3 separate regions of the Homo sapiens genome follow, and all the other regions are reported to be linked to region 1. Evidence: microRNA targets listed by miRTarBase, many of them from high-throughput screens and not tested one by one. Region 1 holds a microRNA gene; each other region holds the end of a gene's coding sequence.
The links. Region 1 holds the annotated microRNA hsa-miR-548g-3p (AAAACUGUAAUUACUUUUGUAC, at 1,171-1,192, shown strand). A microRNA usually pairs through its seed, bases 2 to 8, with sites in the 3' UTR of a target mRNA and lowers its output. Matches are read on the target gene's strand: a 7mer-m8 pairs with bases 2 to 8, a 7mer-A1 pairs with bases 2 to 7 and ends in A, and an 8mer does both.

Region 2: miRTarBase lists RAG1 as a target of hsa-miR-548g-3p. Seed matches in the 3' UTR shown: 7mer-A1 at 1,473-1,479.
Region 3: miRTarBase lists PGD as a target of hsa-miR-548g-3p. Seed matches in the 3' UTR shown: 8mer at 427-434.

The regions. Positions count from the first base shown.
Region 1 is chrX:32,639,529-32,642,677 of GRCh38, reverse strand. MIR548F5 (microRNA 548f-5) reads left to right here and starts at 1,119; the gene lies at 1,119-1,204. The region is part of intron 11 of DMD (dystrophin); the gene reads left to right.
Region 2 is chr11:36,575,957-36,578,956 of GRCh38, reverse strand. It overlaps RAG1 (recombination activating 1), which reads right to left. Exons shown (of 2, transcript NM_000448.3): 2 at 1-3,000. The coding sequence ends at 2,521. Among named protein-coding and RNA genes, the nearest start is that of RAG1, 9.4 kb to the right of the region's middle.
Region 3 is chr1:10,419,461-10,422,460 of GRCh38, forward strand. PGD (phosphogluconate dehydrogenase) reads left to right here. Exons shown (of 13, transcript NM_002631.4): 12 at 1-79; 13 at 170-1,051. The coding sequence ends at 289. Among named protein-coding and RNA genes, the nearest start is that of CENPS, 9.5 kb to the right of the region's middle.

The DNA of each region.
Region 1 (3,149 bases):
CCTCCTGGAATTAAAATTGCAACTTTTTCTTTGCTTATCTGAAACATAAAAAAAGTCTTTTATCTGTGATTCTAACATTTAAAAAGATGTTCATTCAAAAATTCCCCCCTTCAAGGGATGTCTGCCATTAAGTGAAGGATGACAGACACCTAGACTTCTGTGCGTGTAATTTCCTCATCCCCATCCCACTAGAGAATGGAAATGCTAAAATGGCAGTATTACCACCTAGCTGAGATTGACATAAAAAATTAGTTTGTCCTTAGGGAAGATTCAAGAGCTTTTGTACGTGTTACAGCTTTTAGAATAATTATTAAGAAGGCAAGGAGAGCCTTCTAGCTGGTATAGCTTTTGCTAAAACATCTCACAGAGTTTTTAAAATGAGACACGTACATGTAACCACTTCTATCACATAGACTTTTCTGGAAAATTCCTTAAAAATGAATATACAAAGCATTATTTGAGCAACACAAATTCAGAAATAATATGAGAGTTTATAAATAACAGTCTTCCTTGCCACTTTGACTATGTATGTGTTCGTGCATAAAACCTATTAAATTCTAATGTGATAAGCCATTATGTAAGCTTTGCTGAACCTGATTTTTGAAAGATTTTGTGAGAGGAAACAAAAAACGTGATTATGAAAAGAGGGTATTGTCATTATTTTTAAAAAACTAATCTAGGTTTTACTTAATGCTTCAAATAAATTATAACCTGTTCAGTTTCCATTATCATGGTCATGAGAATGGATTATCTCCAATGATTAGCTTCAACTTGGAGCATTACCTATTTTTTTTCTAAATATATGATTACTTCAGAGTAGAAGATTACTAGTAAACAAAAATGGATTCATCGATACTTCTTTTCTCTCTCTACCTAAGACAGGGTTTGGATAGATCCAGTCGGAAGCCATTATTTCCTGCCTAAGCCTTGGTTTAGCGATTAGAGAAATGATAATTAACATTTGTCTAGTCATATTAAGTATATCCAAAGCTATGCTATAATTTCTAAGTTGATATAACAAAAGTTAAAAACTTCTTGTAAATACAGATAAGCTTATCACTAAAATCTATGAACATTTACACTTAGCAATTATTAATCCTATCTACCAACATACTTACTATTAGGTTGCTGCAAAAGTAATCATGTTTTTTTCCATTGTAAGTAATGGGAAAAACTGTAATTACTTTTGTACCAACCTAATAGCAACATCAAATTATATTTGATATATAGTCATTGTGAGATATATATATATATATATATATATATATACGTATAAAATACACATATATCTCTCTATATGAACAAATATTAATGGAATACATTATCAAAAACAATTAATGGCACTGGAGACTCAATAATGATCATACAAGGTCTGGCCCCAGATCTCATGAAACATATTCTGTAGAGGCTGGCAGCCAAGAAAAAAAAGAACACAAGAAAAATACCGGATAGGAATATAGTTTTTGAAGAGATTAAAATGTAATGTGATAGAGAATGGTTGAGGGGAGGCTACTTTAGACTTTGTGATCCAGGTAAGACTTTGAAGGTTGGTACCATTTAGTTTGAGATTTGAATGACAAGAAGGTACCACTATTTGCAGATCACAAGGAAGTGTGGTTCACGGATTAGGAACAGCTAATGCAAAGGCCCAAAAATAGGGACAGTTTGGCTTGCTGGAGGAACCAAAAGGCCAGGGGGACTGTAGAGTTGCAGGGTGGTAAGTTAGATGGCTGAGGTCTGAGATGGGGTTGAAATATAGGTAGGAGACTGATTACATATTGTAGTGTCAGTCAGGGCTTTGAATAAGGGCTTTGAATTCTAGACTAAGTGCAAGACAAAGCCATCAGATTTTATGTAGGTGAGAGATAGGTCAAGAAAACCTATCAGGAAGGCCACTGGAGGAAGAGAGGACAGTTATTAGGCCAGTGAAGTTGGCCAGTTAAGACACAGTAGTGTCTTAGACCAGCTGGTAGTTGTGATAAAAGTATACTTTACTATCTTAGCCATTTAGTTATTTTAAAAACCACTTCTCTGTTTAGTTTTAGTTCCTATTTTTTTTTCCTTTTGACAGTAAAAGTGCTTTTTCCTTTGGAAATAGACTGCTTCAATTTGTGCCCACAGTTACTATTATTCAAGTTGCATCTAGGAAATAATATTTATCCCATAAACCATCAACAATTATGCAAAACAAGAAATATTAAAAATACAAAGATAATAGCGTGCCCTGATTTCTGCCTTACATAAAATCCTCTCCAGTTTGCCTAAGGAATAAGGGCTTGCTTTCTCAAACACTTATTTATGTGAACTGGGGCAATATACTTTTCTTTTCTGTTCTCTACTTTATAGTTTTGTAAAACAGCAATAGTGTCATGAGGCTGACATACCTCTGAAAGATACTAGATGAGATAGGGTATAAAAAGTTAGTTTGTGAATGCAAAATTATTATAAAATGTGAAGAAAGATAACTGTGATAAATAAGATGATGAGCTGTCAGTTAACTATTTTACCATACCATGTCACTTTTTATATGTAATTTGATATTTTCTATATGAAGTATTATATAATTTTATATATAATTATATTTCATATATTTTGTATAATAACTTATATATAATTTTTTAACTTTTAAAAAAATTTTGCAGGGAATGAGGTCTTGTTATGTTTCCCAGGCTAGTCTCAAGCTCCTGGCCTCAAGTGATCCTCTCCCACCTTGGCCTCCCAAAGTACTAGTATTACAGACCTGAGCTACCAAACCTGACCCTCATAGATGTTTTTTACTTTTTTTCTCCAGCCTTTTCTAATTGCCTCAGTCATTTTTTTTTCCCAAAGAGTATAGCTGTGGTTATTTTGTATGGGGATAAGGGAGCATGAGCAGGATGATTAGAAATACATTTGCAGTTATTTTTTCACAATGGCAACATTTAAAAATATGCTTACAAAGGAATGTCAGGAAAGATAACCATACAGATACTTCCTCCTTTCTTTCTCCTTCATAACCACACTCTCATTTGATTCTTTCCTTGCTATTGTATTTTCCCTCCAATTCTGTTGCTTTTATGGACATAAATTTCTGATGAGGTAAAAGCTAATACAATAAAGAAGTTTATTAACACATCTCCAGTCACAAATGAGTTTGGCACGTGCCGATA
Region 2 (3,000 bases), not on the chromosome of region 1:
AAACTTGTAGATTCAGGTTTCACAGGAGAAAAATACATTGCACTTCTGAAGTCCCAGTATATACTTCACACATACACACACAAATGCTCGATTCAGTGTGGTGAATTTCCCTGGAGTATATAATTGCACTTGCAATAGGCATTGCTAAAAATAAAACTCTAGTATAAAACTAGGGTCTAGGATATTGCAGTCTCAACAGTAAGGGCAAAAAACCATAGGCAGCGTTTCTACATATTGAAATTCCTGCAGCCAGATGTTCCCAGGGTTTATCAAAATGTGATCTGATTAAGGGATTATTGGAAAGGTTGTGCTATAAATCATGCTCTTAGTCACATGCATTCAAAATAGTTCCTACAGTGTTAGAAAAGGATAATTTAATACTGGAAAGTATTTACAGTGCCACCAATAGAGAAAAAGAGTAGAAATGGGTAAAAAATCTATAAACCAGCATGACCATGCTTCAGTAAATAGGATGATTATGTGAATTTAGCTGTTTATTAGTGCAGAGACATGCTGGAAGGATTAAGCAGGATGAAGGGAAAGTGTGGCTTAGTGGCCCACTCATTTCCAAAAAAACAAAACCAAGAGTTTTCAAAAAAACTAATGTTAAAATATGTATATGTTTTTGACAACTAAATTAGAAATGACTTTGATATTCTGCATATAAAAAGCAAGGAAAACTGCTGTGTTTTTTAATGAAAGATACTGAGTTCAATCCCTGAAGAAGCACCAAATACATACAATTAAAGATAATGTCGCCGATGCACTTTTGACAACTAAATTATCAAGCTCTTTGATATACTGTGTATGAAGAGTAGCAATTATGGCCAATAAAATCAAAGGAAGAAAAAACTAATTAACACTAACATATCATTATGACTCACTAGCATATAAAATTCCATGCCTGCTCTACATTGCCAGCAACTGGCAAATCCCAGATTCCTAAGGATGCAGATCATAGTTTCCAAATAACTGGAGCCACAAGAGGGTTAGGGGGCCCTTTGGAGCTTTTGTGTTGCTTTCTTCTATCAAAAGAGCCAGAGCACACAAATGATTTAAAAACTTGCTTACCCCTGCCCCATAAAAATGTAATCCCAAGGTCATGTGCTATAGTGATTAGTTGTGAATCCTAAAAAAATTCTGATACTACCTTATAAACATAGTGATTAATTTGTGGTGGAAAGAAGAAGGGCTTTGGAGACAAAAGGACTGTGTTAAATTTCCAAGCCAAGTATTTATTACCCCTAAATGACTTTGAGCAAATCATTTAAACCCCCATCAAATGGAGATAATAACAACACCTACTCCTCAGAATTGTTGTAAGGAAAAATGAGTGTGAAAACATTCCACAGTGGTAAAAAGCACTGTGTAAATGTTAACTCTTCTGCTGTACTGCGTTTGGACTCCATCTAAACTTAGCGGATGGAAAAATACAAGGTTATCCTGCTACACAATTCTGAATCCACTGAAAGTAAACTGATCATTATAGAAAGAATAACACATTGCAGAGGAGAGGACTCTATGAAACCTAGATTTAGAAAAATTGATTCAGGTTTCATTTGGAGAAAGTCTGGCAAAATGTTTCAGTAAGACATGAAATATATTTTTAGACATCAAGCTAACCTATATTTTTACAAGCCTCTGTGGCTTTAAGACTGTATGCAGAAGCTCTAAATTTGGAAACTCTAAATTTCTTGAAATGAAAAAGTAAAAATAAAGAATCATACTTGGCTTCTGATAGCTAAGTAAACATATATTATCAGAAGATTTAATAACTAACTGTAGCTAACAGGTGTATTCTAAATTCATTATTGAAAAATCCATGACAGCAGATGACCTCCTAAACTCTGAAGGTTACAATAGATACATAATTTAAACATAAAAAAGGACTGATTTTCTCAAAGTTGTCCTGATGTAACATATTTATATAACGAATGGGTAAATGCATTGAGAGCACTTTGTAAAGGTCATCATGCTGTACAAATGTAAGATATTATTAGAAAAATTTAAAAAGCTCTTTTGAATCTTATATAGCAAGCCAAGATATGTAAAATTATAAAAATGAAGAATTATTCAAAAATGAAATAGAAGGCACTTATCATATCTCAATACAAAATATAATCAATCAAGGGGGAAAAAAATGAAAACCACAAGACCAATTTCTTTCCTGGCCTCACTGGCTGTTCTTTGACAACCTTGGCTTTGATTTACATGACAGCTCCCCAACACACACAGATCTTTGCTCATCTCTGGTCCCCTGCAGTTACTCCTGTTCTGAGTTACTGAGCTTTCAGATAACTGATTTTTCCTGTTGCTTTTCGGAACTCACTAAAAGCCTCAAGCAATCAGCTCATCAGTTTCTATTCCTGACTTGAGAGCATCTGTAGCATCTTACTCCAACCTACCACCTCTTGGATGGTGAAGCCCCATACACAGCAGTAAAGGGTGCTAGGAGAAGCCCTCAATGCAACCCAGAGGGAAACTCAATTGCAAAAACCAACTCATAAGTGGTTGCCCTACTTAAAATTCCATTGAATCTTGGCTTTCCAGAGAGTCCTCTATGCCTAATGGGTCCCCTAAGCTTGCCTGAGGGTTCATGGTAAACCCAGAGGTTTTTAATGCATTATGAGCATTCATAAACTTCTGGAGGTATTTGGAGGTGTACAACCAGTGGTGTTTCAGGACATCTTCCATCTCATAGCATTTGGACTGCCTGGCATTCATTTTCCGGAAGCGCCTAAACAGTTTGTTACCAGACTCATTTCCCTCACTTGCCCATGCCCCAATGGAGCCATCCCTCTCAATAATTTCAGGAACATGGGCCAGGGTTTTGTGAAAATAATTGGTGATTTTTCCCTCATACCTATACTTGAACTTCGTAGAAAGGAGCTCAGCAAAACGCTGTGAATTGAAACTGTACTGGCAGAGGGATTCTGGGCACTCTTTAGCAGGGCATGATGATCGCCATACTGGTTTCATCTTCAGGTAAAGATCCATCAG
Region 3 (3,000 bases), not on the chromosome of region 1:
TCCCATGCCCTGTTTTACCACTGCCCTCTCCTTCTATGACGGGTACAGACATGAGATGCTTCCAGCCAGCCTCATCCAGGTAAGCCTGTGGAGCAGGGATTAACCTGGCTGGCCCCTCGGGGGCGTGCGCCATGGACTGTCCTGACCAACCTACTCTCTCGTTTCCTAGGCTCAGCGGGATTACTTCGGGGCTCACACCTATGAACTCTTGGCCAAACCAGGGCAGTTTATCCACACCAACTGGACAGGCCATGGTGGCACCGTGTCATCCTCGTCATACAATGCCTGATCATGCTGCTCCTGTCACCCTCCACGATTCCACAGACCAGGACATTCCATGTGCCTCATGGCACTGCCACCTGGCCCTTTGCCCTATTTTCTGTTCAGTTTTTTAAAAGTGTTGTAAGAGACTCCTGAGGAAGACACACAGTTTATTTGTAAAGTAGCTCTGTGAGAGCCACCATGCCCTCTGCCCTTGCCTCTTGGGACTGACCAGGAGCTGCTCATGTGCGTGAGAGTGGGAACCATCTCCTTGCGGCAGTGGCTTCCGCGTGCCCCGTGTGCTGGTGCGGTTCCCATCACGCAGACAGGAAGGGTGTTTGCGCACTCTGATCAACTGGAACCTCTGTATCATGCGGCTGAATTCCCTTTTTCCTTTACTCAATAAAAGCTACATCAGACTGATGCTCTTTCTCCAGATTCTTAGTCTCACCTCGGCCACATGGAGCCATTATCCCCATTGGCAGAAAGATTTTTCTTTAAAAAAAAAGACTAGAATAACACAAGAAACCACATTTAGGATTATGCTTCACTCAGAGGAGGCAGGCAGGGAGGACACACCAGGGGCTTTAATACACTGGGCATGTTTTCTTTCTCCAATTGGGCAATGGGTACATGGACGTTCACTGTAACGTGCTTTTTCTTTCGTCTTTTTTTTTTTTTTTTTTTTTTTTGCTCCTGGCAAGCTGTGCGTGACATTCTTTATGGCTTTTTGTATGTCAAATACTTCATACTAAACTTTCTAGAGAATTAAACTTTAATGATGGGCTCAGCTTGGTCTGATTTATTTCCTTTCCCACACCTGTCTCTACTTGCTCTAAGCCAGGCCCAGGGATTTTGAACAAGCTAAGCCGGCTCCTTAAACTAGGCTTTTCACTTTATCTTACTTACTCAGAGAAGATAAAACCTGCCAGTGATATTGTTGTGTGGCCTGGGGCCAGTGTGACTGTTCCCTGCAGCGGTTTGACTTCATGATGATTTCCCTGGAGTGTTAAAGTCCTAAGAGTTGCCTAAGAGGAGCGAGCAGCGCCTGTGCCTCGACAGCTGGTGTCTACAGTGTGACCTCTGACCTCTCGGCTAATGTCAGTGAAGGAGACAATTTTCATTAAATCACCAACTTTTAATTTATTTTTCTTTTTTTTGAGACAGAGTCTCGCTCTGTCACCCAGGCTGGAGTGCAGTGGCGTGGTCTTGGCTCATTGCAAGCTCCACCTCCCGGGTTCACACCATTCTCCCACCTCAGCCTCCAGAGTAGCTGGGACTACAGGTGCCCGCCACCACTCCTGGCTTATTTTTTTGTATTTTTAGTAGAGACGGGGTTTCACCATGTTGGTCAGGATGGTCTTGATCTCCTGACCTTGTGATCCGCCCACCTCGGCCTCCCAAAGTGCTGGGATTACAGGCGTGAGCCACCGTATTTTAAAATTTTGTTTAGAGATGTGGTCTTGCTATGATGCCCAGGCTGATGTCAAACACCTGGACTCAAGCAATCCTCGTGCCTCGACCTCCCAAGGTGCTGGGATTATAGGCAGGAGCCACCGTGCCCTGCTACCAACTTTTTAAACTCTGCCTAGATGTGAGTACTTCGCTAGATCAGCCCCCACGCACCCCTCCTGCCCTCCCTGTACATTTAAGAGAAGCCCGAGTAGCCGCACGTGACGGGATTTTTCTTTAAGGCTTGTCAAAGGCACTGTTCGAGGGGGATCTTTTCACCTGGCTCTGAGGCTGAGGGATGGACACTGCTGGAATGGAGAGAGAACAGCAAGAGGTCAGAGGCTAAGTGTCAAAGGGCCCACGATGTTTCAAACAGTAATGATCAGAAGGGAATCCACTCAGCCCCTTTCCGCTTACCTTCCAAAAAGCTGTGAGTGGTGGAGTTTGGTTTCAAATCCAGCCCTCCTTGCTTACTAGCTGTTAGACTTTGGGGAAATTATTTACTATCTGTGTTCTCAGTTTTCTCATTTGTAAAATGGGAAATAATAGCACCTGTGTCCTTGAGGCTACTTTGGGGATTCAGCAAGGGAAGATAGAGCAGTGCCTGGCACATAGTAAATACCTACACCAGTGGCAGCAAGGCTGGGTGCGCTGGCTCACACCGTAAGCCCAGCACTTTGGAAGGCCGAGGTGGGAGGACTGCTTGAGCCCAGGAGTCTGAGACCAGCCTGGGCAACATAGTGAGACCCCCATCTCTACAAAAAATAAAAATTAGCTGGGCGCAGTGGTGCACACCTATGATCCCAGCTAGGTGGCAGGCTGAGGTGGGAGGATCGCTTAAGCCCAGGAGATGGAGGTTGCAGTGACCCATGACCACACCACTGTACTCCAGCCTCGGTGATAAAGCAAAACCCTGTCTCAAAAAAAAAAAAAAATAGTGGCAGCAATTACTACCATTGAGTGTGCCTGACCCCTGGACCCCTGGAGCAGTGGTGGTTTTTTTTTAGACTGGGTCTTGCTCTTGCCCAGGCTGGAGTGCAGTGATTCAATCACTGCTCACTGCAACTTTGAACTCCCCGAATTCAGGTGGTTCCTCCTGTCTCAGCCTCCCGAGTCGCTGGTTCTACGGGCATGTGCCACCACGCCCCACTAATTTTTTGTATTTTTTGTAGAGACAAGGTCTCACCATGTTGTCTAGGCTGGTCTCAAAACTCCAGGGCTCAAGTGATGCTGCTCCCACCTCAGCTTCCCAAAGTGCTGGGATTACAGGCAGAAGCCACTACCCCC